Linked DNA regions of Homo sapiens: region 2 is linked to region 1. Evidence: fine-mapped expression QTL. A gene starts in region 1. The other region holds a variant in brackets. All regions are shown on one strand. Distances are between the middles of the regions. Region 1 holds the start of TNFSF9 (TNF superfamily member 9). Region 2 has its middle 21 kb from the start of TNFSF9.

Region 1 (2,905 bases):
ACACACACAGACACACACGAACACAAATATCCAAACACACCCACATGAACACAAACACCCACACGAACGAACAAACACAAACACCCACACGAACACACACCCACACGAACACAAACACACCCACGAACACACACACATACGCACCCCCACACGAACACACACACACGAACACAAACACCCACACAAACACGAACACACACACACACACACACACACACACACACGAAGCTGGTGGCTCAACCTGCCCCAAGGACAGATCTCCAAGAATTCAGGAGGGAAAAGCGATCCCTCTTCTTTCCAGCCCCCTTGGGGGTATTCCCCTGGGGGTCTTGAAAGGGAGAGGGGTACCTCAGATGTTGGGGATAAGGCTCTTTGGGAGTTAGCAAAGGAACTGGGGGTCTCCTTGGCGGTCCCAGATAAAGAGGAAGTGCCCCCCTCGGATCGGGGATGGAAAAAAGGTTCCCCCCAGAGATGCAGAGCTTGTGGGGGTGCGGGGTAAAAAGAGGTGCCCTCAATGTCCTAAGTCCTACATAGAGAAAGGAAGCCGTCGAGGGTTGGAGAACCGCGGAGGGTCCCCCGTCCAGGGTGCAGATGGGGTGCCTTGGGAATGCGGAATGAAGAGGGGTGCCCCCACCCACTGCCACATGGAGGGAAGCCAGCCTTTCTCCGACCCGGGGTGCAGAAGACGTATCCCTGAGGGGTTGAGGACTGTGGGGGTCTCCTCCTCCTGGCCTGGGGTGCTGATGGGGTCTCGGGATGCGGAATGAAAGGGGTGCCCTCCCGTGCAAGACGGAGAAGGAGAGCCCTTGGAGGTCCAAAAAGAACTTGTGGGGGTCTCCTCTCCCCCTCCCGGGATACAGATAGGGTCTCGTAGCGGGCGCAGGATGAAAGGGGTGCCCCCCGGACTAGAAGAAGGAGACCCTTGGGGGGTCCAAAAAGAACTGTTGGGCGGTCTCCTCCCCGCCCCCGGCCTGGGGTACAGATGAGGTGTCGTAGGGGTGCGGGATGAAAGGTGTGCCCCCCCGGCCTCGGTGCTAGATGGAGAATGGGAGCCCCGGTGGGTCTCCTCTCCCCGGCCGGGAGTGTAGAACAGGTGTCCCTGGGGGTGCGGGAGGGAGAAGGGAGTCCCAGAGGGGCGGTAGGGGTCTCCCGCGAGACCAGCTACCGAGGGTCGGGGCACGTCTCACCTGCCGCAGGTCCAAGAGGCCGGCGGGATCGTCGGGCGAAAGCTCGGGACCCTCGCGGAGTCTCGGGCTGGCCGCGGAGCCGGGCGAGGCGCGAGCCCCGGACACGGCCCAGGGGCAGGCGAGGAAGACGGCGCAGGCGGCAGCGAGCAGCAGCAGCAGCAGCAGCCCCGCGACCAGGGCCCAAGGCAGTACGCGGCAGGCGCGAGCGCGGGGCGCGGGAGGCCACGGGGCTTCGGGGTCCAGTGAAGCGTCAGAGGCGTATTCCATGACGAGAGACTGCGGGAAGACACAGCGCGCCGCTTTTTATAGCTGCTTGGCTACAAAAGGAGGCCACGCCCCTCCGCCCGCGGCCACGCCCCTCCGCCCGCGGCCACGCCCCTTCCCAGCCCAGAGCCTTTCCCCTCGTCCCCGTGACTCTGCGGAATTTTCTCCACTCGGATCTCTCTCCGCTTTTCGCTCTCCTTTCCGTTTCCGGCCTTCCAAGCTCGGCTCCAGGTTCCTTTCTCCCTGCTGTCTCTCCATCGCCCTGGTTCTCCCTCTCTGCCGCTCTTTCCCGGTATCTCTGTGGGTCTCTTGCTGACTCAGTCTCCTTTGCTCTCTGTGTCTCCCCGTTAACGTCTTTCTCTGTCTCTGTTGATTGCCTCTGCAGTGGGTGGAAAGAGATCTTTCTCTCTCTCTGCCAATTTATGTCTATGCGTGCCTCTGTGCCTGTATTATCTCTGTCTCTGTCTCTCTCTATCTCTGTCTCTAATTCTCTCTCCCTGTCTCTGGCTCTGTTATCTCTGTCTCTGTATCTCTCTGTCTAACTCTGTCTCTGGCTGTTATCTCTGTCTCTCATTGTATCTCTCTCTGACTCTCTCTCCCTGTCTCTGGCTCTGTTATCACTGGCTCTGTCTCTCTATCTGTCTTCTCTCTCTCTGCCTCTGACTCTCTCTCCCCATGTCTGGCTCTGTTATCTCTGTCTATATATCTCTCTCTGTCTCTGACTCTCTCTCCCTATCTCTGGCTCCGTTATCTCTGTCTCTGTATCTGTCTCTGGCTCTGTTATCTCTGTCTCTCTATCTCTGTCTCTGACTGTCTCTGGCTCTGTTATCTTTCTCCCTCTCTCTGCTTCTGTTATCTCTGTCGCTGTCTCTGGCTGTGACTCTCTCTCTCTGTCTCTGTGTCTGGCTCTCTCTGTCTCTGTCTCTGACTCTGTCTCTGGCTCTGTTATCTCTGTCTCTATGTCTCTGTCTCTGTGTCTCTCTCCCTGTCTCTGGCTCTTTTATCTATGTCTGTCTGTCTCTTTCTCTCTGTCTCTGACTCTCCCTATCTCTGGCTCTGTTATCTCTGTGTCTGTCTCTCTGTCTCTGACACTCTCTCCCTGTCTCTGGCTCTGCTATCTCTGTCTCTGTATCTCTCTTTGTCTCTGCCTCTCCCTGTCTCTGGCTCTTTTATCTATGTCTGTCTTGTGTCTCTTTCTCTCTGTCTCTGACTCTCCCTATCTCTGGCTCTGTTATCTCTGTGTCTGTCTCTGTCTCTGACACTCTCTCCCTGTCTCTGGCTCTGTTATCTCTGTCTCTGTCTCTCTGTCTCTGGCTCTGTTATCTCTGTCTCTGTATCTCTCTTTGTCTCTGCCTCTCCCTGTCTCTGGCTCTTTTATCTGTGTCAGTCTGTGTGTTTCTTTCTCTCTGTCTCTGACTCTCCCTATCTCTGGCTCCGTTATCTCTGTCTCTCTC
Region 2 (2,905 bases), 21 kb before region 1:
ATTATCCTTTTATTTCAGAGGGAACTACATTAAAAGATTTAATTTATGATATGACAATATCAGGCTCTGGATCAGGTCTACCATTGCTTGTTCAGAGAACAATTGTGAAAACTATTGTTGTTACAGGAACACTGGCAAAGGTGAATGTGAAGAATTTTGGCGAGGAAAGCGGCGGGGAGAAGTTGTCATTAAGATATTCCCTTCTTGCCTGGGCACGGTGGCTCACGCCTGTAATCCTGACACTTTGGGAGGCTGAGGTGGGTGGATCACTTGAGGTCAGGAGTTCGAGACCAGCGTGGCCAACAGGGTGAAACCCCATCTCTACTAAAAATACAAAAATTAGCTGGGCGTGGTGATGCAAGCCTGTAATCCCAGCTGCTTGGGAGGCTGAGACAGGAGAATTGCTTGAACCCGGGAGATGGAGGTTACAGTGAGCTGGGATGACACCACTGCACTCCAGCCTGGGCAACAGAGGGAGACTCCGTCTCAACAACAACAACAACAAAAAAAGGTATTGTCTTCTAAGAAAAGGAACGCTTTTACACTGTTGGTGGGAATGTAAATTAGCTCCACTATTGTGGAAAACAGTGTGAGGATTCCTCAAAGACCTAAACACAGAACTACCATTCAGTCCAGCAATCCCACTGCTAGGTGTAAACCCAAAGGAATATAAATCATTCTATTATAAAGACACGTGCATGCATATATTCATTGCAGCATATTCTCAATAGCAAAGACGTGGAACCAACCTAAATGGCCATCAATGGTAGAATGGATAAAGAAAATATGGTACATATACACCACGGAATACTATGCACCATAAAAAAGAACGAGATCATGTCATTTGCAGGAACATGGATGGAGCTAGAGGCCATTATCCCTAGAAAACTAACGCAGGATCAGAAAAACAAATACTGCATGTTCTCACTTATAAGTGGGAGCTAAATGATAAGAACACATGGACACATAGAGGAGAACAACACACACTGGGGCCTATCAGACGGTGGAGGGTTGGGGGAGGAAGAGGATCAGGAAAAATAGCTAATGGATACTAGGCTTAGCACCTGGGTGAAATAACCTGTAAAACAAACCCGCATGACACAGGTTTACCCATATAACAAACCTGCACATGTACCCCTGAACTTAAAGTTAGTTTTTGTTTTTTTTGTTTTGTTTTGTTTTGTTTTTTGAGACGGGGTCTTGCTCTGTCACCCAGGCTGGAGTGCAGTGGCGTGATCTTGGCTCACTGCAACCTCCGCATCCCAGGTTCCAGCGATTCTCCTGCCTCAGCCTCCTGGGTAGCTGGAATTACAGGCACACACCACCACGCCCAGCTAATTTTTGTATTCTTAGTAGAGACAAGGGTTTCACCATGTTGGCCAGGCTGGTCTTGAACTCCTGACCTCAGGTGATCCACCCACCTCCGCCTCCCAAAGTGCTGGGATTACAGGCATGAGCCACCGCGCCCGGCCCCAGGTTAAATTTTTTAAAATTTATATTTATGGAATCATGGAGAACTTCTCATCTAGAGAAGAACGTTTGTGACTCTATGAGGCAGAGATTTATCAAATTGGCAGGTTAC[G/A]TCATGAAAACCTCCTGGGAGAGCCAGGGCCAGCCACACCCGGCCACAGACTAATTTTTCCACCAGGGAAAGTTTGTCCAGCTTATTGTGAAAATTCGTGTGGTATTGATGGCTGTGGTGGGCTGTCTGGCTGCTGCCATCACATGGCTGCTGCAGGGAGGGCCCAGGGAGGAGGCTGACAGCTCCCCGGCCACGCAGCCCACAGCCCTCTGGAGCCCACGCCCTGCTGGAGCAGCGCGGTCGGGCAGAGAGGGGCCCGGATGTGGAGCTGGGGCCGTGCTTTGGGGGCGGGGGCAGGAAGAGGGAGCAGCGCCCTCTTTGGGGACTAGCCAGCCGCGCAGCCACTGCACCCACCCCGCAGAGGGTTCAGGGTTCCTAGGCATCAGGAGGAGGCTCTGTGCAGGGCTTGCCAGCCGTGTTCTTGGGGTCCACCCCGCATCAGAGCGACCACCAAGCCTGCCACTCCCCGTGGCCAGGCTGGGGCCAGGATCAGCTCCCCACAGGCTGCCCCTGAGTGCCGGGGCAACAGGGGCAGTTCGTGGTGATATTGCCCCTGCCCTGGGCGCCAGCCCAGGCCCGGCAAGGATCAGGAATCCCCGCCCCAGCTTGCAAGGGGGAGCACCTGAAGCTGCATCCTGGGCCTCTGCAGCCGCCCAAGTTGTGGCCGCAGATTCAAGCCTCCCTGTGCTCTTGGGGGGCCAGGGAGGCCCCCCTGCCCTTGCAGGCTCCAAAGCACCTGCTCCCACTGCCTGGTTTCTCCCTGCTCTCAGCGCCTGCTCTGATCTTGGAGCAAAGTCAGGGTCCAACCTGGGGCCATGAACGGCAGCAGGAGGCAGACTGATTCCTGGCAGAAGGGAGCAAGTCCTCGCTAAGACCCCACCTTCAGGCCAGGGAGGGCCTGAAGGCTGAGGGCCACCAGACCTGTGGACCAGAGTGGGGACTTGTGATGCCTTTTCCAGGCCCATGCATGGCTGTTAATGGACCAGTCGGCACACACTGCATCCCCTCTGAGGTCCATAAAAGCCCCAGGCTCAGCCAGAGCAGGGCAGAGAAAAAGAGAGACGTCCAGATGACCAGCTGCAGAGAGAAGCCACTCTCTGTGCTAATAGCTGGAGATGACCTGACGACCAGCTGCAGAAAGGAGCTACACTCTCTGCTGAAAGCTGCAGTGAGGATGGGATGACCTGCTGGGCAGAGAGAAGCCACCCTCTCCAAGGCCTCCTCTCTGCTGAGACCTGCAGCCATCAGGAGGACCAGAGAGGAACTACCCTCTCTGGGGTCTCCTCTCTGCTGAGAGCTGAGCACTCAATGGAATGAACTGTC

Evidence for each region.
Region 2: its variant is fine-mapped to the expression of TNFSF9 in whole blood (INTERVAL, PIP above 0.99).

The regions. Positions count from the first base shown.
Region 1 is chr19:6,529,586-6,532,490 of GRCh38, reverse strand. It overlaps TNFSF9 (TNF superfamily member 9), which reads right to left and starts at 1,465. Exons shown (of 3, transcript NM_003811.4): 1 at 1,188-1,465. The coding sequence starts at 1,454. RefSeq lists enhancers at 1-86, 688-787 and silencers at 1,198-1,267, 1,408-1,637.
Region 2 is chr19:6,551,053-6,553,957 of GRCh38, reverse strand. It overlaps the pseudogene TGFBR1P1. Among named protein-coding and RNA genes, the nearest start is that of TNFSF9, 21 kb to the right of the region's middle. RefSeq lists an enhancer at 1,992-2,061. The variant G/A (reference allele first, on the strand shown) is at 1,583.